Regions from separate parts of the Homo sapiens genome. Here regions 1 and 2 are each linked to region 3. The links come from fine-mapping of genetic effects on gene expression. A gene starts in region 3. Each other region holds a variant in brackets. All regions are shown on one strand. Distances are between the middles of the regions. Region 1 holds the start of ELF3 (E74 like ETS transcription factor 3). Region 2 holds the start of MIR6740 (microRNA 6740). Region 3 holds the start of RNPEP (arginyl aminopeptidase).

Region 1 (10,569 bases), 32 kb after region 3:
TGGCCATGGAGCTGGATGGGAAGACTCTGAAGCCCGAAGACATTGAATCCTGTGCAGGGAAAGAGCGAGGGTTTTGTGTACAACACACCTGCATACCTGGATGTGAATCTCAGCTCCACCCCTTCACCAACTCTGTGTGGCCTGGGCAAGCCATTCTAAGGGAACCCTCCACACTGCAACTTTCATGTCTATAAAATGGGAATAACCATGCATTCCTTACAGGACTTTTTTGGTGTGAGGATTAAATGAGAGAATATGTTGAAAAGTGCTTGGTAAATATATTAATACTATGCATTCCCTCTTCTTTGAATGACGTGACCCAGGTAGTCAGGCTTCTGACCACTAGAGGGCAGCAGAAGGTACTGGAAAACTGGGCCGAGTGAACCAGAGATTAGATGGGGTCCAGAGAGCAGGGATGAACTTACCCGTGTGGATTCTGGCAACTCCGGCAGGGAGGGCTCCAGCAGGCGCTGAGGGAAGAACTTTCAAGCAGAGCCGGGTCTCTTCAGGAGCGACTGCAGCAACCCTGATGCTTGGATGGAGTCCAGGCAGGTGATGGTAGTGAAGACCTTGCCAACAGAGTGGGCGCTGGAGAAGGAGCCCTTTAGTGGGGACCCTGGGGCCACGACTAGGCTGGCAGGCCCAGCCAGCACCAATTAATCCATGAGTATTGCCCAGCATTGAGCCTGGAGCACCTTCCAGCCCCTGGCCAGAGTCCTGGGTGTTCTGGGAAAAACCCCTAAACCTAGTAACTCCTCTCCCTACTAGGCCTCTTTGTTGCTGAATCTCTGGAATTTAGGGGCCAGCAGCTTTCTGACTCAGGTCAGCCAGGGGTTCATGTTCCCTCACTTGCCCTCCCCCTGCCTGGCCCATCTCTGGCCTGGCCCCTGGGAGGAATTTCCTGGGCCAGAGGGCAGCCGAAAGCACAGATGCCCACCCCAGCAACGTTCCCGCCACCTGCCCAGGCCAGTGCCCCGTGCCCAACCCCAGAGGGTGCGGGATGACAGACTCTGACAATCATTAAACCAGCCGGGCCTGATTTCCCAGCACTGCCTGCTAAGATCCGGGCCAAGTGGCACTGAATATGCAAATCACCTGGGGCCAGGAGCCCAGTCTAAAGGCCAGGAAATCCCCTCCATCCAATGAGACACCAGCTCAGGTTACTGCAGGGGACACACTATAAAGCCCTGAGCTCAGGGAGGAGCTCCCTCCAGGCTCTATTTAGAGCCGGGTAGGGGAGCGCAGCGGCCAGATACCTCAGCGCTACCTGGCGGAACTGGATTTCTCTCCCGCCTGCCGGCCTGCCTGCCACAGCCGGACTCCGCCACTCCGGTAGGATTCCCCGCCTGTCATTCCCTAGCCCAGCTCTTGGGAAACTGCAGAGGGGTCCAGAGGATTTGCAGTTCTGAACCTGCACACTCCAGTCTAGGATCTCCGAGCAAGAGCGTAGGTGTCCTGAGGGTCAAAGAACAGAGAGAGATTGTCTCTGGGAAGGCAGAATGGCCATGACGCCGCTAGTCTGGCTCCAGGGCCCCAGAGATCTGAGGAGGGAAGCCCAGCTGGAGGCTCCTGTGGTCCTGCCCTGGTCTGAGATCTTGGAGCCCTTCTTGAAGAGACGGTGTCCGCAGAGTTGCTGATCTTCCTGCCCCTGGGGGCTACTCTTGCCCAGGGTTGGGCAAAGCAGAGTAGCTGGGAGTGTAAGGAGAGGACCCTCGTCCCCTCACCAACCTCATCCTCTCTCCCCCTACCCACAGGTAGCCTCATGGCTGCAACCTGTGAGATTAGCAACATTTTTAGCAACTACTTCAGTGCGATGTACAGCTCGGAGGACTCCACCCTGGCCTCTGTTCCCCCTGCTGCCACCTTTGGGGCCGATGACTTGGTACTGACCCTGAGCAACCCCCAGATGTCATTGGAGGGTACAGGTGGGTCTCAGCGGGGTGGGATGGGGCACGGAGTGGGAGACAGATCCATCTAAGGGCCTGTTAGACAAATGGGGGAATAGGCAGGGAGGAGGGTCTCTAGGCAAATTCCAGGGCTAGAGGCTGAGACTTAGTGACTGAGGTGCTGGGGGTTGTGGGGCTGTGACAGGCAGAGGGAGGTGTCAGATACCAGGACAAGGGTGTTGTGAATGCTACCTCCTGCCCCTACTCTTGGGATGGCTCCAAGGGCTGAGGTGTGAATCCCCAGTGTGCTCCAGGAATGGGGCTGTGTGGGCTGGGAGTGGTGGCTCACGCCTGTAATCCCAGCACTTTGGGAGGCTGAGCTGAGCGGATCACCTGAGGTCAAGAGTTCGAGACCAGCCTAGCCAACATGGTGAAACCCCGTCTCTACTAAAAATACAAAAAAAAATTTATCCCAGCGTGGTGGTGGGCACCTATAATCCCAGCTACTGGGGAGGCTGACGCAGGAGTATCGCTTGAACCTGGGAGGTGGAGGTTGCTGTGAGCCGAGATTGTGCCATTGCACCCCAGCCTAGGTGACAGGAGTGAGACTCCATCTCAAAAAAAAAAAAAAAAATGGGGCTGTAAGGTCTGCTGGGTGGCCTGAGCTGAGCCTGTTTCCCTGCCTGGCCCTTGCAGAGAAGGCCAGCTGGTTGGGGGAACAGCCCCAGTTCTGGTCGAAGACGCAGGTTCTGGACTGGATCAGCTACCAAGTGGAGAAGAACAAGTACGACGCAAGCGCCATTGACTTCTCACGATGTGACATGGATGGCGCCACCCTCTGCAATTGTGCCCTTGAGGAGCTGCGTCTGGTCTTTGGGCCTCTGGGGGACCAACTCCATGCCCAGCTGCGAGACCTCAGTGAGTCCAGGCCCCTGGAGGCTGGGGAGCAGCTCCACATGTTGAGCTGAGTCGAGTTCAGTGTGGCCGTAGGCAGGCCCTGGAGCTCTGGGCCAGCTGCACAGCCAGAGAGAGCCCTTGAGGGAGGGATTAGGGGAGTGTGACCCTTCCTTCCTTCCTTGTCAGCTTCCAGCTCTTCTGATGAGCTCAGTTGGATCATTGAGCTGCTGGAGAAGGATGGCATGGCCTTCCAGGAGGCCCTAGACCCAGGGCCCTTTGGTGAGAACCCGTTTTCTCCTTCCTTCCCCAGCCTGTCTTGTCCCATCCCTGCCCCTCCACAGAGTGCTAGAGATGACCCCCTCCCCAGACTTCTTCCTCCCTCAATTAGAAAAATTGCAGCAGGTCATCAGACCCATGGGCAGCATCACCTGTCCTGGTCTGGTCCCCTGAGCCCTCTCTGAGTTCTCACCTCCTCTTCCCAGACCAGGGCAGCCCCTTTGCCCAGGAGCTGCTGGACGACGGTCAGCAAGCCAGCCCCTACCACCCCGGCAGCTGTGGCGCAGGAGCCCCCTCCCC[T/C]GGCAGCTCTGACGTCTCCACCGCAGGTGAGAGCTCTCTCTGGGCCACAACCTCCCTTCCCCGAAGTGTCCCTTGTTCCCTCTGGCTCCCAGCACCATAACTCAGGCCTTCTGGCAGGAACAGGAACAGGCTGGGAAGTGTGTCCTGAGAGCCAGCAGCGTGGTTGAGCAGAGGGTGGGCCGGCAGGGGACTTACTCTGACCCCGCCCCCCAGGGACTGGTGCTTCTCGGAGCTCCCACTCCTCAGACTCCGGTGGAAGTGACGTGGACCTGGATCCCACTGATGGCAAGCTCTTCCCCAGCGGTGAGTCGAGGGAGGTCCCCAAGAGGGCGTCCCATTTAGCAATGCACAGGGGGCCCGGCTCTTCCTGCAGCCTTTTCCTGTAGAGGGGCTACTCTCCCTAACTCCCCTCTTGCCCCTCCTTGACCTTCCACCACCGTCCCCACAGATGGTTTTCGTGACTGCAAGAAGGGGGATCCCAAGCACGGGAAGCGGAAACGAGGCCGGCCCCGAAAGCTGAGCAAAGAGTACTGGGACTGTCTCGAGGGCAAGAAGAGCAAGCACGGTGAGCTCCGGGGGCACGTGGGTCCTCCCTGCGCCGGGCTGAGCGGCTTCCTGGGGCACTGCGGGTTGTTGCAGGTATCCCTTCTCCCGTTTTCTCTGGCCTCCGCATGGCCTTTGGTAAGGCTGTGCACAAGCTGGGGGCTCTATGGTATCGGTCACCACCTAATTGCAGAGCCTGGCTTGGTGGTCCTGGAGAGGAGGAGGAAATAAGGCTCCCAGTGGGAGGCTCATGGTACCAGAGTCCTGTCCACTGACTCCAGTGTCCTGTCCACTGACTCCAGTTCTCTCTGCACTTGGCCACTGTCCTGCCCTCTGGGACACCCTCAATGTGAGGAGGCAGCTGGTGGGTCTTAGGTGGGCTGAGGAGAAAAGCAGTCACTGCAGTACCCGCACAGAGGGCACTGCGGGGTCTCTGGAGAGGCTTGCTGCATGCTGTGGCCAAGTCAGCAGTGCACTGGGGCGGGCAGGGCTGGCTGGCCTTGGGTGAGAGGGGACACCTGGATGGCAAACTGATGGAGGCTGGCCTTGCAGCGCCCAGAGGCACCCACCTGTGGGAGTTCATCCGGGACATCCTCATCCACCCGGAGCTCAACGAGGGCCTCATGAAGTGGGAGAATCGGCATGAAGGCGTCTTCAAGTTCCTGCGCTCCGAGGCTGTGGCCCAACTATGGGGCCAAAAGAAAAAGAACAGCAACATGACCTACGAGAAGCTGAGCCGGGCCATGAGGTGAGCTGGCGGCCAGGACCCTCACGATACAGCCGGACATGGGGACAGGCGCTCACACTCCCACCGCCCTCTTTCTGGCTGCCACTTGGCTTCTTGCAACAGGGCTGAGTCCTTAGAGTGAGGACAACATCTGGGTTGGTCTACTTCATGGATTAAATGACAACATGGAGAAAGTATTAGCCTGGCAGACAGCAGACACAGTGCACTTGAGCTAGCAGCAACATTTCTTGTATCGCCTGTGAGGCTTGTCCTCAGGAAGGCACCTGGAGAGTGGGAAAGGGGGCAGGAGCCGTGCCCACCCAGGGCCTGGCTTTCTCCTCGTTGAAGCACTTAGGTTGTTTTTCTCTGGGCCTCAGTTTCCTCCTGTGTCCAGGAGTACACTAGATCATCTTAAGATCCCGTCCAGCCCTAAAATCATGTACTTACTTTTTTTTTCTTTTTCTTTTTTAAATAGAGGCAAGGGTCTCTACGTTGGCCAGGCCGGTCTCAAACTCCTGGCCTCAAATGACTCTCCTGCCTCGGCCTCTCAAAGTGCTGGGATTACAGGTGTGAGCCAGTATGCTTGGCCTTTTCTTTTTTCTTCTTCTTCTTTTTATTTTTCGAGACAGGGTCTCGCTCTGTCACCCAGGCTAGAGTGCAGTGGCACAATCTTGGCTCGCTACAACCTCTGCCTGCCGGGTTCAAGTGATTCTTGTGCCTCAGCCTCCAAGTAGCTGGGATTACAGGCACCTGCCACCATGCCCAGCTAATTTTTGTATTTTTAGTAGAGACGGGGGTTTCACCATGTTGGCTAGGCTGGTCTCGAACTCCTGACCTCAAGTGATCCGCCCGCCTCAGCCTCCCAAAGTGCTGGAATTACAGGTGTGAGCCACCGTGCCCAGCTCCCTGGCCTTAAAAGTCATGTAATTTAATGATCAGACCCCAGTCACAGCCATAGGATACAAAGAAGCAAAGGCAAAGAGCCCTGTGTCCTGGGCACGGTTACAGGCCAGTGTAGGGAAAGAGCTTCTGCTTGCCAGTGTGAAGAACAGAGGAGTTTAGGAAGTGTGAGTCAGGCTCAGCTTAGTCAGGCAGAGACCAGTGGGCATGGGTTACCTGGGGGTAACGCGGGCCAGGTGGGCGGGCTGGCAGCCTGGGGCCCATTTCCTGCCAAAGCACCTCTGACCATCCTTCTCTTCACCCAGGTACTACTACAAACGGGAGATCCTGGAACGGGTGGATGGCCGGCGACTCGTCTACAAGTTTGGCAAAAACTCAAGCGGCTGGAAGGAGGAAGAGGTTCTCCAGAGTCGGAACTGAGGGTTGGAACTATACCCGGGACCAAACTCACGGACCACTCGAGGCCTGCAAACCTTCCTGGGAGGACAGGCAGGCCAGATGGCCCCTCCACTGGGGAATGCTCCCAGCTGTGCTGTGGAGAGAAGCTGATGTTTTGGTGTATTGTCAGCCATCGTCCTGGGACTCGGAGACTATGGCCTCGCCTCCCCACCCTCCTCTTGGAATTACAAGCCCTGGGGTTTGAAGCTGACTTTATAGCTGCAAGTGTATCTCCTTTTATCTGGTGCCTCCTCAAACCCAGTCTCAGACACTAAATGCAGACAACACCTTCCTCCTGCAGACACCTGGACTGAGCCAAGGAGGCCTGGGGAGGCCCTAGGGGAGCACCGTGATGGAGAGGACAGAGCAGGGGCTCCAGCACCTTCTTTCTGGACTGGCGTTCACCTCCCTGCTCAGTGCTTGGGCTCCACGGGCAGGGGTCAGAGCACTCCCTAATTTATGTGCTATATAAATATGTCAGATGTACATAGAGATCTATTTTTTCTAAAACATTCCCCTCCCCACTCCTCTCCCACAGAGTGCTGGACTGTTCCAGGCCCTCCAGTGGGCTGATGCTGGGACCCTTAGGATGGGGCTCCCAGCTCCTTTCTCCTGTGAATGGAGGCAGAGACCTCCAATAAAGTGCCTTCTGGGCTTTTTCTAACCTTTGTCTTAGCTACCTGTGTACTGAAATTTGGGCCTTTGGATCGAATATGGTCAAGAGGTTGGAGGGGAGGAAAATGAAGGTCTACCAGGCTGAGGGTGAGGGCAAAGGCTGACGAAGAGGGGAGTTACAGATTTCCTGTAGCAGGTGTGGGCTTACAGACACATGGACTGGGCTGGGAGGCGAGCAAAGGAAGCAGCTGAGACTGTTGGAGAACGCTTACAAGACTTCATGCAAGCAAGGACATGAACTCAGAACACTGAGGTCAGAAGCATCCTGCTGTCATGACACCGCTCGAGTGACCTTGACCTTGACCAAGTCTGTCCTGTTTAGGACTGATTTTTCCTATTAGGCTAGGGTTTGGACCTGATGTTCTCAAGATGTCTAGAATTGCATGGCTGGCCTTGTGGAATAGATGGTTTTGCATTCCAGCCAAGTGTGCTGTAAACTGTATATCTGTAATATGAATCCCAGCTTTTGAGTCTGACAAAATCAGAGTTAGGATCTTGTAAAGGAAAAAAAAAAAAAAACAAAACAAAATGGAGATGAGTACTTGCTGAGAAAGAATGAGGGAAGGAGTTGGCATTTGTTGAAAGTGTAGTCTTTTTCTCTTTTTTTTTTAATTGCAACTTTTACTTTAGATTTAGGAGGTCGTGCGCAGGTTTGTTACATGGGTATATTGTGTGATGCTGAGCTTGGGATGCGAATGATCCTGTCACCCAGGTAGTGAGTATAGCACCCAGTGAAACTGTAGTCTCATGCCAGGCACTGTGCTAGCCCACTCTGGCTCATTTAATCCTCTCCTAAGAAGAGAGGAGACACAGCGTCCCCATTTGACAGATGCAGAAAGAGGTTCCACAGGTGTGCCTTGATTCTGTCCTAAAACCGTTTCCCGGAAGCTTTTCCTGGTGTGGGCGCTTCTAACCTAATCCTCAATCGATTCCAGAACTATTACTCTGTTTCCACAGTGATACTGTGTCTAGGTTTTAGGGAGGACAGTTCATTGATGTTACTTAAGAATGCTTTCCAGGTGGAAAGTTCCTTAAGTTTGAGGCTTCAAATTCCATACAGCACATTAAAATCCCATTCATGAGTTTGAAATACTGCTCTGTTGTCTTGGAAATACCAATCAGATTGTTGGCTGAAGTGATGTGGATAAAGAAGGGATCTTAGAAAAACTAAAGCTTGTGTGTGGATTTCTGGAAATGCAGCTTGCTCTGGAGAAGCAAGGAATGGTGGAAAAGGAGAGTGGGGAAGTTGATTGGAGAGGAAAGTGAGGTCATGAGAGAAACCAGAATCCTGGAGCCATTTGGAAAAAGGCTTTTACTTACATTTCCCTTCTGAAGTGTGAGCCAGTTAGACAAAGGGGATGCGGGCCAGGGCGTAGGTCTAGCCTCAGAAGCTGGGGAAGCTTTCACAGCTACTTAGTCTAAAAATGACCCCATTTCTTGGAAATTATGCATTAGACTCTGGTCTAGTTTCCCTAGCCACAATATCTCGGGGTCCTTGCACCCTTAAAAGAGGTGACCCAGCTGGGCGCGGTAGTTCACGCCTGTAATCCTCGTACTTTGGGAAGCCAAGGCGGGAGGATCACGAGGTCAGAAGATCGAGGCCATCATGGCCAACACGGTGAAACCCCGTCTCTACTAAACATACAAAAATTAGCTGGGCATGCTGGCACGCGCCTGTAGTCCGAGCTACTCAGGAGGCTGAGGCAGGAGAATCACTTGAACCCAGGAGGCGGAGGTTGCAGTGAGCTAAGATCATGCCACTGCACTCCAGCCTGGTGACACAGGGAGACTCTGTCTCAAAAAAAAGAAGAGAGGTGACCCAGTGTGGCCTGAAGTCACCTAGCCAAGAAGTGGGGGAGGGGCCTCTAGAGCCCGGGACATGCTTGTTCAGCCTCCCTTGACTCCCAGCCTCTTCAGCTTCTAAAGGAGATCCTAGCAGGGAGGAGGGCTGGGAATATGGCGCTCAGCCCCTTCACCCTCTTCTGGAGGGCTGGGGGCAGGTGCTGCCCGCTGCGTGCTGACCTTTGCCCTGCCATTTGCAGTTTATGAGGCGCTTTCCTCATCCCATTATCTCATTTGATCCGCCCCACAGCTCGCTGAGGAGACCAGGTGTCCCCATTTTACTGACAAGGCTAGTGGTGGGCTGAAGTCACTGACTGGGTGAGAGCGGGGCCAGCTCACAGCATGCCTGCCTCCACGCTGCAGCTCAGTGAGACCACCTGGGCAGGTGGCCTCTGCAGGGCAGCGCCTGGGACAGCCTGGAAGACGGCAGCTCTGGGAGGGACGCCTTTCTCCCCAACAGTTCTCTGCCCTCTCACCCCTCAGGATGCTGCAGAGTCCTGGCACGGGCCCCTGGGCTGGCCTCCGTGCTGCCCTCTCTGTCGGGCACCAGTCACCCTTACCCCGACTCTCACCAGCCCAGGGGCCTCCTAGCAGGAGACGGCCCGGTCTCTCGCCCACCAGAGTCTGCATCCCCTCAGGTGTGTCCTGGGCTGGGGAGTGGGGGTGGGGAGGAAGCCACAGGGCCGGGCTGTTTATATCCCGCCCTGCCGGAGCTGCTGGTCACCTCTTATCTGCTTCTGTGGGATTGGGTGTGTCGCTGAGCAGGTCAGAGGGAGGTCACCCCTCCCGTCGTGTTTGGGTGTGCCTGAGGAGGGGCTGGGGTTGGCCCCCTGGGACAGTTCCTGGCTTATCCCACAGCCCCACCTGTCCCACCAATTCTGGGGAAGTCTGGCTTCTCCTGGGGGAAGTGGGTGAAGGGGTTGCATTTCTGAGGAGTCTGGTTTCAATCTGCTCTCTCTCTCTGCTGTTGTCTGTTTACACATCTCTCTCTCTCGCCGGGCTGTGAGCACCTCTGGGCAAGTGCTGGGGCTTACTCACCTCAGCACCTTGCACAGCGCCTGGCACAGAGGAGGTGCTCGATAAATATTTGCTAAATGGCCCCGTGACTCTCCCTGCCCTGGCCACTACCTCCCCCACACACCACACACATTCATACACACTCATGGGAACCAAAGTCACACACACTCACACTCACAAAGATAAATATTCACAAGCCCTCACTCACATGCCCCTGCACGCACTGCAGACGCTGCCTGCTCTCACACACTCGCATGGACCGTATTCACAACCTCACACACTTGCACACACCAGCGCACGCAACACACTCCCACCTCACAGTCTCACATAGCCACACCCAGGCCTGCCTGCACGACTCACCTCCTCCCTCGGGGTCCTTCTATGAAGCATTTCCTGACCTCCTCTTTGGCCCTTTTCCCCCACCAGATGGGTTCAGCCCTTGCCTCCAGTCAGGACAGGCCTGGTAATTTGCAGAGCCCAGTGCAAAGTGAAAGCCTGGGCCCTTGTTAAAGAATTATTAGGCTGGGCGCAGTGGCTCATGCCAGTAATCCCACACTTTGGGAGGCCGAGGCGGGTGGATCGCCTGAGGTCAGGAGTTTGAGACCAGCCTGACCAACATGGCGAAACCCCATCTCTACTAAAAATACAAAATTAGCTGGGCGTGGTGGTGTGCGCCTGTAATCCTAGCTACTCTGGAGGTTGAGGCAGAAGAATCGCTTGAACCTGGGAGGCGGAGGTTGCCGTGAACCAAGATCATGACACTGCACTCCCGCCTGGGCAACAAGAGAGAAACTCCATCTCAAAAAAAAAAAAAAAAAAGAACGATTAAAAATTTCAAAATGGCAACAGCAGAGAAGAGCATGAACCATGCGCGAGGTGCAGTCCTCCAAGCGCAGGGCCCTGTGGGACCACCGCACAGGTTGCACTCAGGAAGCCACCCCTGCCTCCATTTGCCACTGGCCTATAAGAGCTCCACTGAACTACCCACCATGCCTTCTACTACAGATATGTTTGCCACAGTCACAAAAAAATCAACAAGTTGTCAAGTTTTTTGCTTTTTGTTTTTGA
Region 2 (8,749 bases), 21 kb after region 3:
ATCCCAGCACTTTGGGAGGCCAAGGCGGGCATATCACCTGAGATCAGGAGTTTGAGCTTGGCCAACGTGGTAAAGCCCCCTCTCTACTAAAAATACAAAAATTAGCTGGGCGTGGTGGTGCACACCTGTAATCCCGGCTACTCAGGAGGCTGATGCAGAAGAATCGCTTGAACCCAGGAGGAGACGGAGGTTGCAGTGAGCCAAGATCACGCCATTGCACTCCAGCCTGGGTGACAGAGTGAGGCTTTGTCTCAAAAAATAAAATAATAAAATAAATGAAATAAGATAAAATAAAAATACAGTACTTTGATAAGGAAAGGTAACTGTCAGAAAGGTGCGATTCCCCCAGTCCTCACTTAGGAGAGAGACCAACAGCCTGAGTTAACCAAGTCCTTTGTAGCCCACAGCAACAGGGAGCTAGGGACTGAGTCAGGCTCTCTGTAACTGTCCCTATTTGCCCTGGGTCCCCAGGAGGGTAATGTTATTAAGCTTCAGGTATCTGTCGCTGTTCTTCTTGAGGCCACAAGGAGGCAGCACAGTGTCTCTGTCAGGAAAATACACTTGGATGTGGTGACAGACGTTTTCCCGAGGCTTACGTTTGATTCTGCACCAGGCGCTGCGTACACCTGCTTGGAGGCTGCAACGGGGCGGGCTCTGCTGCGTCAGCACATGGACATCACTGGAGAGGAAAACCCACTCAACAAGCTCCGCGTGAAGATTGAACCAGGTCCAGGAGGCTCCTCTGTCTGACACCCACTCCCCTCAATTGAGCTTGGAGCCCCAAGTTAATGCGAACTTCATGTTGATCAGTGCACGCTTAGAATACTTTATTTGGAGGGAGGGGCACTCCAGAGCTCTTTGTAGCCAATTCTCTGGCCCCTGGGCTGACTGAACCCAAGCCATTGCAGCCAGATAGGAGTTCTGTCCAGTCTGTGCGGTTCGTGATGACTTCACCATTGCTTTGCATTTGCACAAGTCCATATCGTTTTACCAGGCTCTTTCGCATTCCTTCATGATCATCAGGGCAGATCTGTGGATTCTGTAGAATAAAAGCATTAGCCTTATTTTACAGAGGATGGGACTGAGTGCCAGACAAGTTAAGTGTCTTGTCCAGGTCATGTACCTAATCAGTGCATGACTGCAACTGAGATCCGGGTCCTCTCTCCAAATTCAGATCTTTTTACTTCCTAACATTTTCCTTCATTCCATGTGTGACTAATCTGAAACCTTTTTATGCAATTGAAGCTCATGTTCCTTGATGCCGTTAAGTTTGCAGATGAATTTCTTAGAGACGGGTAATTAGTTTTAGCCTGGAACAGCTGTAAAAACAACACATTGGCTGGGCATGGTGGTTCACGCCTGTAATCCCAGGTCAAAGCGGGTGGATCATGAGGTCAAGAGTTCGAGACCAGCCTAGCCAATATGGAGAACCCTGTCTCTACTAAAAATACAAAAATTAGCTGGGTGTGGTGATGCACACCTGTAATCCCAGCTACTGGGGAGGCTGAGGCAGGAGAATCGCTCGACCCCAGGAGGCAGAGGTTGCAGTGAGCTGAGATCGTGCCACTGCACTCCAGCCTGGGTGATAGAGCAAGACTCCGTCTTAAAAAAAAAAAAAAAAAAACATTGATCTGGGAGGGTAGGTTGAGTATTTAGGTGGTGACCAATAGGGATGGAAAAGACACAGCTTGGTGCTCAGTGGGAAATGCTGATGGAACCTACCCACACAAAGTGTATCCTGGGACTAAGGAAATGTGTCCGCTCCTCTGGAAGGCTGGTTTCTCTGTCTTCATATTAGATCCACAGTGAATGGCCCTCTGAGATCTTGGAAGTACCTTGAGAGAGGCCAATATCTGGAGAGAGATCTTGGCCTTGAGATAGAGATCTTAAGAGAGAGAGTCTTGGCCTTGAGAGAGTCCAAGATCTGGAGAGAGGCCAGGATCTGGACACCTTCTTGGCCTTGCTGTCCCTGGGGAAGCTGAATTCTGATCTCTTCCATCGCTAGTCTTTGACTGTGGAGCTAGAGAAGAACGTTACGGGTGACAGGCTACAAAAGCTCAAATCTTGTCTGCTTTCTCCTCTGCCAGGCGTTGACCCGGACGACACCTATAATGAGACCCCCTACGAGAAAGGTTTCTGCTTTGTTTCATACCTGGCCCACTTGGTGGGTGATCAGGATCAGTTTGACAGTTTTCTCAAGGTATAGTCACATGAGGGGAGAAGGAAGAGGAGCGGATAAAGCCACTGGGCCTGATCAAGGGTAGAGGCAGGGGGCGAAAGATGTAAGGGGTTGGAGGAGGACCCAGGACACAGAGGGACACCACTCCCCACGGGGCCAGAGAGGGTCTAAAGAGCTTTCCCTCCTCACAGGCCTATGTGCATGAATTCAAATTCCGAAGCATCTTAGCCGATGACTTTCTGGACTTCTACTTGGAATATTTCCCTGAGCTTAAGAAAAAGAGAGTGGATATCATTCCAGGTAAGCAGAGGAACTGGCCCACAGGCTTCTAAAAAATAGTAGAGAATGAGATCTCATTGACACTCGGAAAGATGGTGGTGGATGGGAAAACACTGGGTCAGAGTCAGCTAGGTAGGGGCGTTTTGGGAAGCAAACCCAGAATCCTGGGATTTATTCCACAAGAATGACTTCTTTTCACTCCTCTCTGCCTCATTTTCTCCCAGTCTGTTTCCTTACTCTCTCCTCTCACCTGGACACACAGTCAGACCCTTAACTTGCCTGGAGAGCTGCCACTGCTGCCGCACCACTGCCCCAAGCTAAAACTCACAGGGCAGGAGCGGAGGCAGCACCCCTCCTACAGCCTTCTGAGTGAAGGCAACCCCAGTGGCCCTCCTTATTTCTTTCTTTCTTTTCTTTTCTTTTTTTTTTTTTTTGAGATGGAGTTTCGCTCTTGTTGCCCAGGCTGGAGTGCAATGGCACGATCTCGGCTCACCGCAACCTCCGCCTGCCGGGTTCAAGCGATTCTCCTGCCTCAGCCTCCCGAGTAGCTGGGATTACAGGCACGCGCCACCACGCCCGGCTATTTTGTATTTTTAGTAGAGACGGGGTTTCTCCATGTTGGTCAGGCTGGTCTCGAACTCCTGACCTCAGGTGATCCACCTGCCTCGGCCTCCCAAAGTGCTGGGATTACAGGCGTGAGCCGCTGTGCCCAGCCGCCAGTTTCTGCCTGGGAGGTACCACTTCCAAAGAAAAAACGAAAAATGTCCTGTCATGGAAGACACAATCCATTAGACATACCCCCACTTCTTGCTGTGACCTGAACCTTGAGTCACTCTATTGTTGGTTTGATGAAGTCCGCGTCCTCTGACAGTAGGATTGGTCAGGACTTTAGCAGCACCTACTGTTCGGTTGGAGGCTTGCATTTTAATGCGGGGACTCCGGAGCTAATGGTAGTTAATAATTCCAGAGTACTTACTATGCATCAGGCGATACGCTAAGCTTTTAATGTTTATTTGCTCATGTAATCCTCATAACCATCACGGAGGCAGGGCCTATCACCCCCACTTTATAGATAAAACTGAGGTGCAGAGAGGTGAAGTAACATGCCCGTGGCCTCCCAGCTGGTTAATGACAGAGCAGGGGTAGGAACCCAGGCAGCCTGGTCCTAGAGCCTGGGTGCTTAAGTACAGTGTGGTTGTGATCGGTAGGAGAATGTGCACGTGAATAGAGCATCCACCAACTTGGCTCTGACAACACAGTGCTAATTTGGAGCGAAAAGCACTTTCACGGTCGAAACGGCACAGTCTCTAGATGTCGTTATAACTAGGACCCTGCTGGAGCGAATAGTTACATGGGAAAGTAATGTTAAATGCTGGGGAAAGAGTTTGGGATGGAGAGAGGAGAAACTTGAGGTCTCTGGGAGTTGCTTAAACCAGTTGACCGTAACCTGGCCAGAGAATTCTGATAGTGTCTTCTCTCCTCCCAAACAGGTTTTGAGTTTGATCGATGGCTGAATACCCCCGGCTGGCCCCCGTACCTCCCTGATCTCTCCCCTGGGGACTCACTCATGAAGCCTGCTGAAGAGCTAGCCCAACTGTGGGCAGCCGAGGAGCTGGACATGAAGGCCATTGAAGCCGTGGCCATCTCTCCCTGGAAGACCTACCAGCTGGTCTACTTCCTGGATAAGATCCTCCAGAAATCCCCTCTCCCTCCTGGTAAGAAAAAATGGTGAACCAGGGCTCCTTGTGTGCACAGCTTTATGTCAGGGGCTAGAGGGAGGCTCACAAAAAGTAGTGATGCTTGCCCCTAGGGAACTGCCACGTACACTAGGGAGGCTGGCACTCCACAAGGAATGTGCCACCGGGAGGTTATGGGTTAGGGGACTGCCACGTACACTAGGGAGGCTGGCACTCCACAAGGAATGTGCCATCGGGAGGTTATGGGTTCTACTTACAAGCACCTCAAGGACAAAGTCACAAAGCCTGGCATTGCTCAAGTCCGAAGCTCCTGCAGGCGACTCTTGTAAGGCTTTTGTGTCTATTAAGTCATTTAATTCCCACAACTCCTCTGGGAAGTAGGCGGTGTGATGTTAATACCCAGGTGACAGAATGAACTTGAGGTACAAACAGTTCGCACAGAACCCAGTCATCCAGAGCTCTCAACCTCTAATGCTTTGTGGCTGCTCAGTCAACATAATATTCACCAAGGGGTTAAAAAAAAGTTAGAGCCAAGATGACTTTTAGCAG[A/G]TGAGTGGTAGGAGAAAAAATGGGACAGATATTGGGGGAATATGTCTGCTTTAATCTTGCTCTGTCGACCAGGCTGGAGTGCCGTGGTGCTATTGGCTCACAGCAACCTCCACCTTCTGAGTTCAAGTGATTCTTGATTCTAGCACCTCAGCCTCCAAGTAGCTGGGATTACAGGCGTGCGCCACCACACCCGGCCAGTTTTGTTTGGTATTTTTAGTAGAGATGGGGTTTCGCCATATTGGCCAGGCTGGTCTCACATTCCTGACCTCAAGTGATCCGCCCACCTCAGCCTCCCAAAATTCTAGTATTACAGGTGTGACCCACCGTGACCAGCCACAAACCATTTCTTTCTCTTCTCCAGGGAATGTGAAAAAACTTGGAGACACATACCCAAGTATCTCAAATGCCCGGAATGCAGAGCTCCGGCTGCGATGGGGCCAAATCGTCCTTAAGAACGACCACCAGGAAGATTTCTGGAAAGTGAAGGAGTTCCTGCATAACCAGGTGGGTGACCCCTGCCTCGCTGTTCCCGAAAGCACACTGGGACCCACTCGGCCATATGTGAAGTAATCATGTGGGCAGGGCTCATCTAGGACTCATCTGAGGCACAGAGGGAGGGGCAAATGACCTGAGGACCCTACCACTCAGCCTCTTTACTAGTGTGGCTTTGAAGGCATTGCCCTAGGGACAAGAGGAGGCCTGCAGGCTTGCAGTGCTTTCTGCAATTCAGCTGGTGAGACCCCAGGGAAAAAAGCTGGCCAGAGCCAACGCAGAGGCGGGAAAGAGGGTGACAGTGTCATGTGGGAAACACAAGAGGGAAAGGGGCCAGAGGCGGAGCAAGAGGAACAAAGGCTTGGAGGATAGGTCCCTGCTGCCCTGTGACTTGGGCATGATCGGGACAGCAGCCAGACCCTCTGTCACTATGTGAAAGTTGCCCTGTTGGGGAAAGGCCCCGGGCTCTCAGGATGAACTGAATGTCATCAGATTCCGGAGCAGGGAGGGGCTGGACCGGAGACGAAGCATTGCTCTGCATAAAGTCAGGGCTGCCTGCCTGTTCGGGGATATTCTGAGCCCTTTGATGGCTTCCTCAAGGCTCTGGATTTTAGGAACTTGTGATGTCGCTGGCTTATATTTGTGTGAATTTGACCTGTGGGTTGACCTGTGGGTTTTCCTTTGCTTGACTGCAGCTGGACCGTATGCGGCTGTGAGCTTTATGTGCCGCAGCTGCTGATATCTGCTATTCACGTGGTGGCTCACCACCTACACCTTTCCAGAAGTCTGGAATCCCATTGTGTCCACCCAACTCATTCATTTTGTTGACTGTAGACGTCCCCATGTTAGTATGGATTGGGACGCGTATTGAGATCCATCTCCATGGATCTCTGGCGCCCAAGAAGATGCCTGAATTAGAGCACTTCTGATGAGAAGCTCCTCATTCCAGCTGTGATGCCCACATCCCTTTTAGCACCTAGCCATGGCTGCTGTTAGACTGGCACTGGGGGCAGCAGGGCTGGACAGATCCACCAGGCAAGCTTCTTAGGCATGTGTATGTGTGTTTCTTGCAGGGGAAGCAGAAGTATACACTTCCGCTGTACCACGCAATGATGGGTGGCAGTGAGGTGGCCCAGACCCTCGCCAAGGAGACTTTTGCATCCACCGCCTCCCAGCTCCACAGCAATGTTGTCAACTATGTCCAGCAGATCGTGGCACCCAAGGGCAGTTAGAGGCTCGTGTGCATGGCCCCTGCCTCTTCAGGCTCTCCAGGCTTTCAGAATAATTGTTTGTTCCCAAATTCCTGTTCCCTGATCAACTTCCTGGAGTTTATATCCCCTCAGGATAATCTATTCTCTAGCTTAGGTATCTGTGACTCTTGGGCCTCTGCTCTGGTGGGAACTTACTTCTCTATAGCCCACTGAGCCCCGAGACAGAGAACCTGCCCACAGCTCTCCCCGCTACAGGCTGCAGGCACTGCAGGGCAGCGGGTATTCTCCTCCCCACCTAAGTCTCTGGGAAGAAGTGGAGAGGACTGATGCTCTTCTTTTTTCTCTTTCTGTCCTTTTTCTTGCTGATTTTATGCAAAGGGCTGGCATTCTGATTGTTCTTTTTTCAGGTTTAATCCTTATTTTAATAAAGTTTTCAAGCAAAAATTAAGTTACGGATTGAGTGACTATTAAATTTCTTCCACCAGAGGTCCTCACTGTGTTTGTTCAGGAAAGGTCACTGGGGGAGGCCCAGAGAATGACAGTATTTTCCTGTCCTCAGGGAACAGCCAGGGTGAAGGAGGTGGGTGTCCTACACATGCATATGAAAAAAAATATGGCAAAATGGCACAGCTGGTGCAGGAAAATGAAAAAGGAATAGCATTCCAGTTCTCCGTGAAGCAGCTGAATTCTCTATCTGCAGCAGCATTCCCATTATCTTTTCCATCACTAAGAAAAAAAAATGGGCTGGGCACGGTGGCTCATGCCTGTAATCCCAGCACTTTGGGAGGCTGAGGCGAGAGGATCGCTTGAGCCCAGGAGTTTGAGACCACCCTGGCCAACATAGCAGGACTTCATCTCTACCAAAAAAAAAAAAAAAAAAAAAAAAAAGCCAGGCGTGGTGGCTCACGCCTGTAATCTCAACACTTTGGGAGGCTGAGGCAGGCAAATCACTTGAGGTCAGAAGTTTGAGACCAGCATGGCCAACATGGTGAAACCCCATCTCTACTGAAAAAAAAGATAGATGCAAAAATTAGCCAGGCATGGTGGCTCACACCTGTAGTTCCAGTTACTTGGGAGGCTGAAGCAGGAGAAACACTTGAACCTGGGAGGTGGAGGTTGCAGTAAACTGAGATCATGCCACTGCACTCCAGCCTGGGTGACAGAGTAAGACTTCTCAAAAAAAAAAAAAAAAAGCTGGGCGTGGTGGTGCATTCCTGTGGTTTCAGCTACTCAGGAGGCTGAGGCAGGAGGATCACTTGAGCCCAAGAGGTCAAGGCCACAGTGAGTCTTGATTGTGCCACTGAACTCCAGCCTGAGTGACAGAGTGAGACCCTGTCTCAAAAATAAAAATAAAGTGTCTTATGACTTTTTATCTACCCTTCTGCCCATGCCCAAGGCTTCACTGGGCCTCACCTGTCTTTGATCCTAGATAACTATTTGAATGGTAATCAGTAAAGTCTTTAGAACTTAGCACTAAATTCTGATTTCCTGGCCTCAACATGGGGACCTAAACAGTTAGCAATCTGGGTTTGGGAGTGGGATGAGGGGAGGGTTGGAAGAAATATTTAGTGTGTTTCATTTGCCTTTCTTAAATACAGGGCACCCCTGAAACAGGCTTTGTTCGCAGCTCTGCTCTGTCCTCGGATTTAGGTTATCGAACAGGCTTCCTCCCTCCCCTGCACAAGGGTTGGGAATGAGTCGATTTGCTTTCACTCAGCAAGAGCAAGGGACTAGTGGTGACCAAGTGGTAGACTGGAGAGGCCTCTGCCCCGTGGCACACAGCTCCACCATCAGAGAGGGTGATGTGGGTCATAGGTGAGGGATCTGGAGGCCCGGTATCGGAAGAGCTTCTCCAGGCACTGGCATTTTGACAGCAAACTGCTTCCGTGGCTCTTTCAGGACTGTTCCTGGCAATATGTTATTGGCAAGGACTATTTTAGGGCTATCCAGTTGTCTCCCCCTCTCCCCAACCTTTTATCTAGCTTATCAGTAGCTATCTTTCCTTGCTCTGTACAAAAACCTATAGCACCAATAGGCCCAGTAATCATGAAGGGTCAGTGCAAGGAAAGGCTGGAAGCCCTTCCTCTAACAGCCGTGCTGTGACTCCACTAACTTTGTGGGGTCTCCCATTACATAGCGTGGGTATCCTGAGCTGTGCAGCCTGCCTCACTCACCACCTTGGTACCTGACAGGACTACTGGATGTGCCTGTCCTTTTGTAGGACATTCTCCCATCCCAAAGATGAGGCTGTGCTGCCGTGTGGGCAAGCTCTGTGGGGAGAGGGGAGGCCAGTGGGTTGTTTTTGCCATCACAGAATACTGGGAAGCCCCTGGCATCCTGCT
Region 3 (10,569 bases):
GGCTGGTCTCAAAATCCTGAGTTTAAGCAATCCACCTGCCTCGGCCTCTCAAAGTGCTGGGATTATAGGCATCAGCCATTGCGCTCAGCCAATTTTTATTTTATTTGTTTTGAGACTGTATTATTAGACAGATAATACTCCAACATGTGAGCTAGAACATTAACAAGCAATTTATACCTAGGTATTTGTGAACTATACCTAGGTATTTGTGAATTATACCTAGGTATTTGTGAACTACTTACCATCCCAGGTTTCTGCCTCCTCGATTTGAAGTAATAATATCCTGTCTTACTCTTTCTTTTCCTTTTTTTTTTTTTCAGACAAAGTCTCACTCTGTTGCCCAGGCTGGAGTGCAGTGGCACAATCTCAGCTCACTGCAACCTCCGCCTCCCGGGTTCATGTGATTCTCCTGCCTCAGCCTCCTGAGTAGCTGGGATTACCGCCACCACACCGGGCTAATTTTTATATTTTTAGTAAAGATGGGGTTTCACCATGTTGGCCAGGCTGGTCTCAAACTCCTGATCTCAGGTGATCTGCCCACATCAGCTTCCCAAAGTGCTGGGATTACAGGTGTGAGCCACTGTGCCCGGCCAAGTTTTTTGCTTTTTTTTTTTAAACTACATATTTCCCCATTTATTGGCTTATGAGTTATATACTGTCTTCAATTTATATTACTTAAGTGGTTTCCTTTAAAACTTTAATACAGATACTTAAGATCTCACATTTATCCCTACTCTCCATCTGATAATACAAGGAGCTTAGAATGCTTTAACTTCCTGCAGCCAATTAAGCCGACTGAGTTCCTTTCCTCATGGGGGCCCAGTGTGCAATGGCTGTAAATAGCAGCTTCCTTGGTAGTGTATGCAGCCTGTTTGTTGTATGGGTTGCTCTAAGGGACCTTGGAGACAGTCCTTTCAGATGGATGTTCATGTTTCTGACCTTACACTACCCCAATGTAGGCTCCAAACTGGCATGCGAGGTGCCTTTGGAAAGCCCCAGGGCACTGTGGCCAGGGTTCACATTGGCCAAGTTATGTCCATCCACACCAAGCTGCAGAACAAGGAGCATGTGATTGAGGCCCTGCGCAGGGCCAAGTTCAAGTTTTCTGGCCGCCAGAAGATCCACATCTCAAAGAAATGGGGCTTCACCAAGTTCAATGCCAATTAATTTGAAGACATGGTGGCTGAGAAGCGGCTCATCCCAGATGGGTCAAGTACATTCCCAATCATGGCCCTCTGGACAAGTGGCGGGTCCTGCACTCATGAGGGCTTCCACTGTGCTGCCCCCTCTTAATACTCACCAATAAATTCTACTTTCTGTCCACCTAAAAAAAAAAATGCTTTAACTTCAGTTACCCCTCTCTCTTATGTACTTTTAGTCTGTTATTTTAGTTTTATCCTGATTCCCTCACATAAACATTATTAGTATATTATTAGTGTTGTTTTATACAGTTGTTTAAATTTATCTACTTTTTTTGCTCACTGTTCCTTTTTGCATCTCATTCTTTCCTTCAGTGATTCCTTTCCTTCTTGAAATAATTCCTGGCCTGGCACAGTGGCTCACGCCTGTAATCCCAGCACTTTGGGAGGCCGAGGCAGGCGGATCACCTGAGGTCAGGAATTCGAGACCAGCCTGGCCAACATGGTGAAACCCCGTCTCTACTTAAAATACAAAAATTAGCCAGGCATGGTGGCAGGCGCCTGTAATCCCAGCTACTCAGGAGGCTGGGGCAGGAGAATTGCTTGAACCCGGGAGGCGGGGGTTGCAGTGAGCTGAGATCGCACCATTGCACTCCAGCCTGGGGGACAAGAGCGAGACTTCATCTCAAAAAAAAAAAAAAAAAGAATTCCTTTAGAATTTCTTCGTTAGGAGTCTATGGATGGTAAATACTCTCAATTTTTATCTAAAAATCTGTTTTCCCTTACTTTTTAACAGTAGTTCATTTTTAATTTTATTTATTTTTATAAAGACAGGGTCTCCCTGTGTTGCCCAGGCTGGTCTGGAACTCCTTGGCTAAAGAGATCTTCCTGCCTCAGCCTCCTAAAGTGCTGGGATTATAGGCTTGAGCCACTGCACATGACCAAATAATAGTTTAGTTGGGTATACAATTCCAATTTGACAGTTGGCTTTTTTTTCTCAGTATTTTGAAGATAATGTCTCCAGCTTGTATGTTGCTAATGAGAGGTCTGCCCTTGGTCCAATTTCTTATTTTGAGACGGAGTTTTGCTCTTGTTGCCGAAGCTGGAGTGCAATGGCGTGATCTCGGCTCACCACAACCTCCGCCTCCCAGGTTCAAGTGATTCTCCTGCCTCAGCTTCCGGAGTACCTGGGATTAAAGGCATGCGCCACCATGCCTGGCTAATTTTGTATTTTCAGTAGAGACAGGGTTTCTCCATGTTGGTCAGGCTGGTCTCGAACTCCCAACCTCAGGTGATCCGCCCGCCTTGGCCTCCCAAAGTGCTGGGATTATAGGTGTGAGCCAACATACCTGGCACCTTGGTCCAATTTCTAATTGCCATTCTTTTGTAGATAATCTGTCTCTTTTCTTCCACTGCTGTAAGATCTTTATGTCTTGGTTTTCTTCAATTTAACTAAAACATGTCTATAGGTAGCTTTATTTTTATTTTTGCTAATAATTTATTGTAACTTTTTACTGTTTTTTTTTTTTTTTTTTGAGACAGGGTCTCACTCTGTCATGCAGGCTGGAGTGCAGTGGCGCAATGTTGGCTCACTCCAACCTCTGCCTCCTAGGCTCAAGCAATTCTCCTGCCTCAGCCTCCCGAGTAGCTGAGATTACAGGTGTGTGCCACTACTGCCCGGCTAATTTTTTGTATTTTTAGTAGAGATGGTGTTTCATAATGTTGGCCAGGCTGATCTTGAACTCCTGAGTTCAAATGATTCACCAGCCTCAGCCTCCCAAAGTGCTGGGATTACAGGCATAAGCCACTGCACTCGGCCCTGTAACTTTTAAATCTATAGAATCAGGAATGGAAAATTTGTGGCCATTATTTTGAAATGTCCAACATATGTTGCATTCTAAGCATTCACAAATAAATAATAAATAATGAAAATGAACTGGGGGAGAGGTGGGCTGTGCCCACAGTGTCCCCTTTCTACAATCCTGAATTCTCTGAATTCCTGAATCTCTCCACTGTAAGTTATTACAGGCCATCTACAGGCCAGTTCTGAGGCAAACTAGACAGTGTGGGAGCCATGCAGGGAGGCGGAAGTGGAAATGAGGTTCCTGGTATTCCCAGGAAGAAGTAAGGCTATAAGGGGAAATAATATAATTCCTAAAATCTTTTTTTTTTTTTTTTTTGAGACAGGGTCTTTCTCTGTTGCCCCAGCTGGAGTGCAGTGGTATGATCATGGTTCACTGCAGCCTTGACCTCCTGGGCCCAAGCAATACCCCTACCTCATCCTCTGAGTAGCCAGGACCACAGGTGTGCATCACCACACCCAGCTAATTTTTTAAAATGTTTTTGTAGAGAGGGGGTCTCCCTCTGTTGCGTAGCCTCATCTTGAACTCCTGGGCTCAAGCGATCCTCCTGCCTCAGCTTCCCAAAGTGTTGGGATTACAGGCGTGAGCCACCACACCCAGCCTAAAATCTTTTACCCTTTAGCTAAGGATGACATCCTCTTCCTCTGTCAATATTTAACTAGAAGGATCAGGCTAGGCATCTCTTCGTTGTGCTCCCCAGCATCCTTTTCTTCCCGTATCAAGCGCAGCACGTGGAAGTGTCGTGACCTGTTTTCTTGTGCGTCTGCTAAAATGTGAGTTAGGCTATGAACACCATAGGAAGAGGAATTGTGCCGGACTTATTCAAACTGTACCCCAGGCACTTAGCTTAACAACTGGTGTCTAGCAGATACTCAGCAAAAGTGCATTGCATCGAAGACTGAATAATTTCAAGATAGGAGTATTCAACGTCTAATATGTACCAAGCGCTGTTCTCAATGCTACAGAAAAGCAGGTTTCTAAGGTTTCTGGAGTTAAACAAAAAACCCTGACATTGAACTTACATGGAATATTAAAGTCATTATCTACCATAAGCATTATTTCATGAAATAAAATAATTTCAACTCTACAAAACTAGGAAGCACAGAACGGAATACTATTTCCCTTAATGAAAAACTCCCTACATTGTTCTTTTTAAAAATCTCATTTCCTAGCTGAACGGTAAAAACATCATCATTGATTAGCTCCTATTCATAGAAGGCCCATTGCAACCCACTGGTACAGAAGAGAAACAAAGTATTCAGCGGAGAATACCCTAGCTCAATAAGCGGTACAATACAGTAAGGGAAATAGAAGTGACATGCGATGGACAGCCAGGCCTTAAATTGCGCGGTGCTGATTCCTGTCCCTTAACCCAACAATAGAAAGATAGGCGTGCCTGGAGTTGCTGGGGGACGAGGCTCGATCCAGTGTGAATTCCGTGAAGTTGTGCAGGGTTTCACTGTTTGCTGAGTGTGTTAGACAGGTTACCTGGTAGAGTTCTCACATTACTTCGTGAGATACACAGATATTATGACTCTATTATACTGGTGCAGAAAAAGGCTCGGGAAGATTCATGTTTCTTGTGCGACTTGCCCAAGGTGACACACAGTTCTAACAACTGGCCTATCGCAGGGTGTGAGATCTGGAACTCAGACCTTCCCAGCCAGGGCTCAGTCCACGCCACTGCCTAGATGAGGCAGCAGGAAGGGTCAGCAGAGAAGGGTGCCCCACCGGGACGACTGGAACACCTCAGTAGGATATGGGTGGGCAAACGTGGGCCACACGATCCCACCGGCCTCTTTTGTCCTAAGTCCCGAGGCACGGGTGCAGCTAGAAGAGTGGGCGGTAAAGCGCAGGGAGGGGATGCGGTCGGGAGCAGATTTCGGGGGCGGGGCCCGCGCGGCGGGGGCGGGCCCGCGGCGCTCGGGGCGGGGCTCCCCTCGGGTTCGCGGCCCGGCCGGTGAGCAACGGCTCTGCGGCCATGGCGAGCGGCGAGCATTCCCCCGGCAGCGGCGCGGCCCGGCGGCCGCTGCACTCCGCGCAGGCTGTGGACGTGGCCTCGGCCTCCAACTTCCGGGCCTTTGAGCTGCTGCACTTGCACCTGGACCTGCGGGCTGAGTTCGGGCCTCCAGGGCCCGGCGCAGGGAGCCGGGGGCTGAGCGGCACCGCGGTCCTGGACCTGCGCTGCCTGGAGCCCGAGGGCGCCGCCGAGCTGCGGCTGGACTCGCACCCGTGCCTGGAGGTGACGGCGGCGGCGCTGCGGCGGGAGCGGCCCGGCTCGGAGGAGCCGCCTGCGGAGCCCGTGAGCTTCTACACGCAGCCCTTCTCGCACTATGGCCAGGCCCTGTGCGTGTCCTTCCCGCAGCCCTGCCGCGCCGCCGAGCGCCTCCAGGTGCTGCTCACCTACCGCGTCGGGGAGGGACCCGGGGTGAGTGCGCCCCAGACTGCGCCCGCCGCTGCCTGCCTGCCCTTCCGGCCCCCAGCCGCCCTGCACCCTCACCTACCCCACCCGGGAGGAGGGACAGGGAGGACCCTTCCAGAGCGTCCCTAGAGGGGCCTACTCCCCGCGCGCCGCCTCTAGGCCTCCTCCCCTTGCTTCCTCTTTTCCTCCCGGGCTGCCTGGTTTCCTTCTGGACTTCCTCCAGCCACTGGGCGGTGCATCCTTCACCCTTTCCGTCCTTCCGCGTCTCCTCCCTGGCCCTGGAGGCTTGTCCAGATTGCGCCGCATTCCCGCTCATCGCACACTGCCGTTTCTAACATTTTCCGTGGCTTTCTAGATGACCTGTTGTTCATGCACTTCACTTAGTGCCCTCTTGGACTTTTGGGCCGAGGTACCTGATTATCAGCCACCTTATCTCTGCTTTATGGTGGCTCTAGAATTAGCCAGATGTTGATCTAGCTCTTTGTTCTGTGTTGCCTTCTAGTTCCACGGTTAAAGCTCTTATCTTTGTTTTTGTTTCCTCCTGTGAAGTCCTGGATTTGATTAACGAAAGAATTTGAGTAAAAGTGAGAACTGGAATTAGGGTGCTATAAGCATTATAATAATTTGGCCTTCTCACTGTTGGTTAACTCTTTAATTTTTTTTCGGGACGGGGCAAATATTGGAAATAAGAGGATGGAGTTATGTGGCTTATGTCTGTAAGAGTCAGAAAATCCTTCCTGGAGAGTCCTTAGGCTGTGGCTGCCAGTTATCTCTCAGGTAGAGTTGGTTGCAAGTTTCATAGTAAACTGCTTGCTTACAGTTTAATCTTTTATTTATTTATTTGAGGCAGAGTCTCACTCTCGTCCAGGCTGGAGTGCAGTGGCAAGATCTCGGCTCACTGCAACCTCTGCGTCGTGGGTTCGAGCGATTCTCGTACCTCACCCTCCCTAGTAGCTGGGACTACAGGCGTGCGCCACCACACCCGGCTAATTTTTGTATTGTTTAGTAGAGACAAAATTTCACCATTTTGGTCAGGCTGGTCTCGAACTCCTGACCTCGTGATCCGCCTGCCTCGGCGGCCTCCCAAAGTGCTGGGATTACAGGCGTGAGCCACTGCGCCCGGCCCACAGCTTGGTTTTATACATTAGGGAGACATGATACATCAGTCAGTATATGTAAGAAGTACATTGGTTGGGTCTGAAAAGGTGGGACAACTTGCAGCAAAGGCAGGAAGACTTGAAGCGGCTTCCGGATCACAGATAGGTGATACACAAATGGTTACATTCTTTTGAGTTTCTGATGAGCCTTTCCAAAGGAAGCAAATCAGATATGCATCCATCTCAGTGAGCAGAGTAGTGGCTTTGAATAGAATGGGAGGCAGGTGTGCCCTAAGCGGTTCCCAGGTTGAGTTTTCTTTAGTGATTTTGGGGGCCCAAGAGATTTTCCTTTCACAGCCTGATAACACCACTGCACTCCAGCCTGAGCAACAGAGTGCGACCCTGTTTTAACAACAACAACAAAAAAGCAAAGATGATGAGTAAGCAATTTTGGTGGAGGGGGGATGATGGCTAATATTTAATAAGATGAGCCAGGCACTAGTCTAAGTGCTTGACATAGGTTAAATGAGTTGTCTTTCCATAAGTGGTTAATATGGTGCGTGGTACATGGTAAGTAAGCTGTGTTAGCTCTTACTGCTAACTTTTGTATTTCTTTCTTTTTTTTTTTTTTTTTTTTTTTTTTTTTTTTTTTTGAGAAGGGATCAAAAAGCTCCCTACATTGTTCTTTTTAAAAATCTCGTTTCCAGGCTGGGTGTGGTGGCTCACATCTGTAATCCCAGCACTTTGGGAGGCCAGGGCTGGCAGATCACCTGAGGTCAGGAGTTTGAGACCAGCCTGGCCAACATGGTGAAACCCTACCTCCACTAAAAATACAAAAATTAGCTGGTTGTGGTGGCTCACACCTGTAAACCCAGCTACCTGGGAGCCTGAGGCAGGAGGATCGCTTGAATCTGGGACACAGAGGTTGCAGTGAGCTGAGATCATGCCATTGCATTCCAGCCTGGGTGACACAGCGAGGCTCCATCTAAAAAAAAAAAAAAAAAATACTCATTTCCTAGCTGATCAGTAAAAACATCACTGACTGATGGCATTCAATGATCAGTCAATTGATCAATTCTTATTGACTGGTATAGTGGCACCATCTCAGCTCACTGCAGCCTTGACCTCCCTGGCTCAAGTGATCCTCCCACCTTAGCCTCCTGAGTAGCTGGGGTAGCTGGGACCAACCACAGACCTGCCACCTCCACACTTGGCTAATTTTTGTTATTTTTTGTAGAGATGGGGTTTTGCCATGTTGCCCACGCTGGTCTTGAACTCCTGGGTTCAAGCCATCTGCCCGCTTTGGCATCCCAAAGTGCTGGGACTACAAGCATGAGCCAACATGCCTGGCTTAATTGAGCAGCCAGTTCAGAGAGTTCCCATATACAGTTCAGTACCTCCTACATACACATATACACACAGATTCCCCTCTTGCTACCATTTTGCATTAGTATGACACATTTGTTACAATTAAACAATGCTGATATATTATTAACCAAGATTGAATCATTTTACATTAGTATAATAATATATTTGTTATAATTAATAAACCAGTACCGATACTGGAGTCCATAGTTTTTTCAGATTCCCTTAGTTTTTACTTAATGTCTTTTTCTGTTCCAGGAAGCCATCCAGAATTCCACATTATATTTAGCTGTCATGTATCCTCTTGGGACTGTGACAGTTTCTCAAACTTTCCTTGTTTTTGATATAACTTTGACAGTTTGTTTGTTTTTTGAGACAGGGTCTTGCTCTGTCATCCAGGCCGTAGTGCAGTGAGTGGCACAATCATGGCTCACTGCAGCCTTGATCCCCCTGGTTCAAGTGATCCTCCTGCCTCAGCCCAAGTAGCTGGGACTACAGGCGCATACAACTGCGCCCAGCTAATTTTTTGAATTTATTATTTGTAGAGATGAGGTCTCACTGTGTTATCCAGGCTTGTCTCAAACGCTTGGGCTCAAACAAACAATTCTCCCATCTTGGCCTCCCAAAGAAAGTGCTAGAATTACAGGCATGAGCCACTGCTCCCAGCCAGTTTTTTGTTTTTTATTTTTTTATTTTTATTTTTTCTGTAGAGACAGGGTCCCCCTATGTTGCCCAGGCTGGTCTCAAACTCCTGGCCTCAAGCGATCCTCCTGCCTTGACCTCCCGAAGTGCTGGCATTACAGGTGTGAGCCACTGAGCCCAGCCAACCTTGACAGTTTTGAGGAGTGTTGGCCAGGTATAGCGTAGGATGACCCTGTATTGGAATTTATCTGATGTTTTCTCATGATTAGATTGGGATTATGGGTTTTGAGGGGCAATTCACAGAGGTAAAGTGCCATTTTCTTTCTTTTTTTTTTTTTTTTTTCTTGAAATGGAGTTTCACTCTTGTTACCCAGGCTGGACTGCAGTGGTGTGATCTCGGCTCACTGCAACCTCCGCCTCCCTGGTTCAAGCGATTCTCCTCCCTCAGCCTCCGAAGTAGCTGGGACTATAGGCATATGCCACCACCCTGGTTAATTTTTGTATTTTTAGTAGACACAGGGTTTCACTGTGTTGGCCAGGCTGGTCTTGAACTCCCGACCTCAGGTGATCCACCAGCCTCGGCCTCCCAAAGTGCTGGGATTACAGGTGTGAGCCACTGCGCCCAGCCAAAGTGCCATTTTCATCAGGTATTGAGGGCGCATAGTATCCACATGATTTATGACTGTCAGCGTTAACCTCGGTCCCCTGGCTGAAGCAGTGATTATCAGCTTTCTCCACTGTGAAGTTATTCTCTCATCCCTTTCTATACTGCACTGTACCTGTTATAAGGAGACTAATTAAATTTTTCACACACAAAAACTCAAACCCAGCATCCCAACGTAGCTTCCTTATGCCTCTTAAAATAGGTCTCAGACACTGCTGTGTTCAGAACCCTTCATTAGACTTGCCCAGGCCTGCCTCCCCAACTCTGCATCTGGAGCCTGCATCTGTTTATGCCTCTCCTCATGTTGCTGCTCGTCTCCTTGTGAATGTCTCCTCCCTTCCTTTCCAGCCATCTCAATCCTGCGTGTCTTTGAAGGTCCAGCCAGAAAGTTTTCTTCCCCTATGAAATCATCCTGGAGTAATCGAATCCATTTCTAAATTCTAAATGCTATTTGTTACTGACCTATGCTCCATCCTGCCCCTCTTCCAGGTAAATGAATGGCTGTTTGCTATAGGCAAAAACTGGGTTTTGTGATAAATCATTCAGATTTTACTTTTTTTTTTTTTTTTTTTTTTTTTTTGAGGCAGAGTCTCGCTCTGTCACCCAGGCTGGAGTGCAGTGGCATGATCTCAGCTCACTGCAACATCTGCCTCCTGGGTTCAAGCAATTCTCCTGCCTCAGCCTCCTGAGTAGCTAGAATTACAGGTGCATGCCATCACACCCGGCTAATTTTTGTATTTTTAGTAGCAACAGGGTTTTACCATGTTATCCAGGCAGGTCACGAACGCCTGACCTCAAGTGATCCACCTGCGTCGGACTCCCAAAGTGCTGGGATTACAGGCGTGAGCCACTGCACCCAACCCAGATTTGCCCTTTGTTTAAGAGCTAACAGAACACAGATAAAGAATCATATAACCAGTGCCTATTATATAAAATACCTTTCTTCTGAAAAGGTAAATTTTAGGAACAGAAAACACATATTAGGCCAGGTGCAGTGGCTCATGCCTGTAATCCCAGCACTTTGGGAAGCTGAGGCGGGCAGATCACCTGAGGTCAGGAGTTCAAGACCAGCCTGACCAACATGATGAAACCCCGTCTCTACTAAAAATACAAAATTAGTCGGATGTGGTGGTGCATGCCTATAATCCCAGCTACTTGGGAGGCTGAGGCAGGAGACTCGCTTGAACCCAGGAGGCGGAGACTGCAGTGAGCTGAGATCACACCATTGCACTCCAGCCTGGGCGACAAGAGTGAAACTCTATCTCGAAAAAAAAAAAAGAAAAGAAAAGAGAATGTATATTAGGCTGAGCATGATGGCTTATGCCTGTATTCCCAGCACTTTGGGAGACTGAGGTGGGCGGGTTGCTTGAGGCCAGGA

Evidence for each region. PIP is the estimated chance that this variant, and not a neighbour inherited with it, causes the effect.
Region 1: its variant is fine-mapped to the expression of RNPEP in anterior cingulate cortex (GTEx, PIP above 0.99).
Region 2: its variant is fine-mapped to the expression of RNPEP in whole blood (INTERVAL, PIP 0.94).

Annotation. Positions count from the first base shown.
Region 1 is chr1:202,009,375-202,019,943 of GRCh38, forward strand. It overlaps ELF3 (E74 like ETS transcription factor 3), which reads left to right and starts at 1,213. Exons shown (of 9, transcript NM_004433.5): 1 at 1,213-1,332; 2 at 1,755-1,925; 3 at 2,583-2,804; 4 at 2,970-3,062; 5 at 3,266-3,385; 6 at 3,573-3,662; 7 at 3,808-3,924; 8 at 4,455-4,650; 9 at 5,835-7,809. The coding sequence starts at 1,763. The coding sequence ends at 5,949. It overlaps ELF3-AS1 (ELF3 antisense RNA 1), which reads right to left and starts at 979. Exons shown (of 2, transcript NR_146472.1): 1 at 426-979. RefSeq lists enhancers at 1,179-2,112, 2,113-3,047, 3,857-5,056, 8,559-9,327. The variant T/C (reference allele first, on the strand shown) is at 3,360.
Region 2 is chr1:201,999,289-202,008,037 of GRCh38, forward strand. RNPEP (arginyl aminopeptidase) reads left to right here. Exons shown (of 11, transcript NM_020216.4): 6 at 614-727; 7 at 2,088-2,200; 8 at 2,371-2,479; 9 at 3,949-4,173; 10 at 5,066-5,208; 11 at 6,270-6,855. The coding sequence ends at 6,428. ELF3-AS1 (ELF3 antisense RNA 1) reads right to left here. Exons shown (of 2, transcript NR_146472.1): 2 at 763-1,039. It overlaps MIR6740 (microRNA 6740), which reads left to right and starts at 3,836; the gene lies at 3,836-3,948. RefSeq lists an enhancer at 5,044-5,686. The variant A/G (reference allele first, on the strand shown) is at 4,705.
Region 3 is chr1:201,977,685-201,988,253 of GRCh38, forward strand. RNPEP (arginyl aminopeptidase) reads left to right here and starts at 4,964. Exons shown (of 11, transcript NM_020216.4): 1 at 4,964-5,429. The coding sequence starts at 4,983. It overlaps SNORA70H (small nucleolar RNA, H/ACA box 70H), which reads left to right and starts at 777; the gene lies at 777-911. It also overlaps the pseudogene RPL10P4. RefSeq lists an enhancer at 4,600-4,659 and silencers at 4,870-5,549, 8,266-8,440.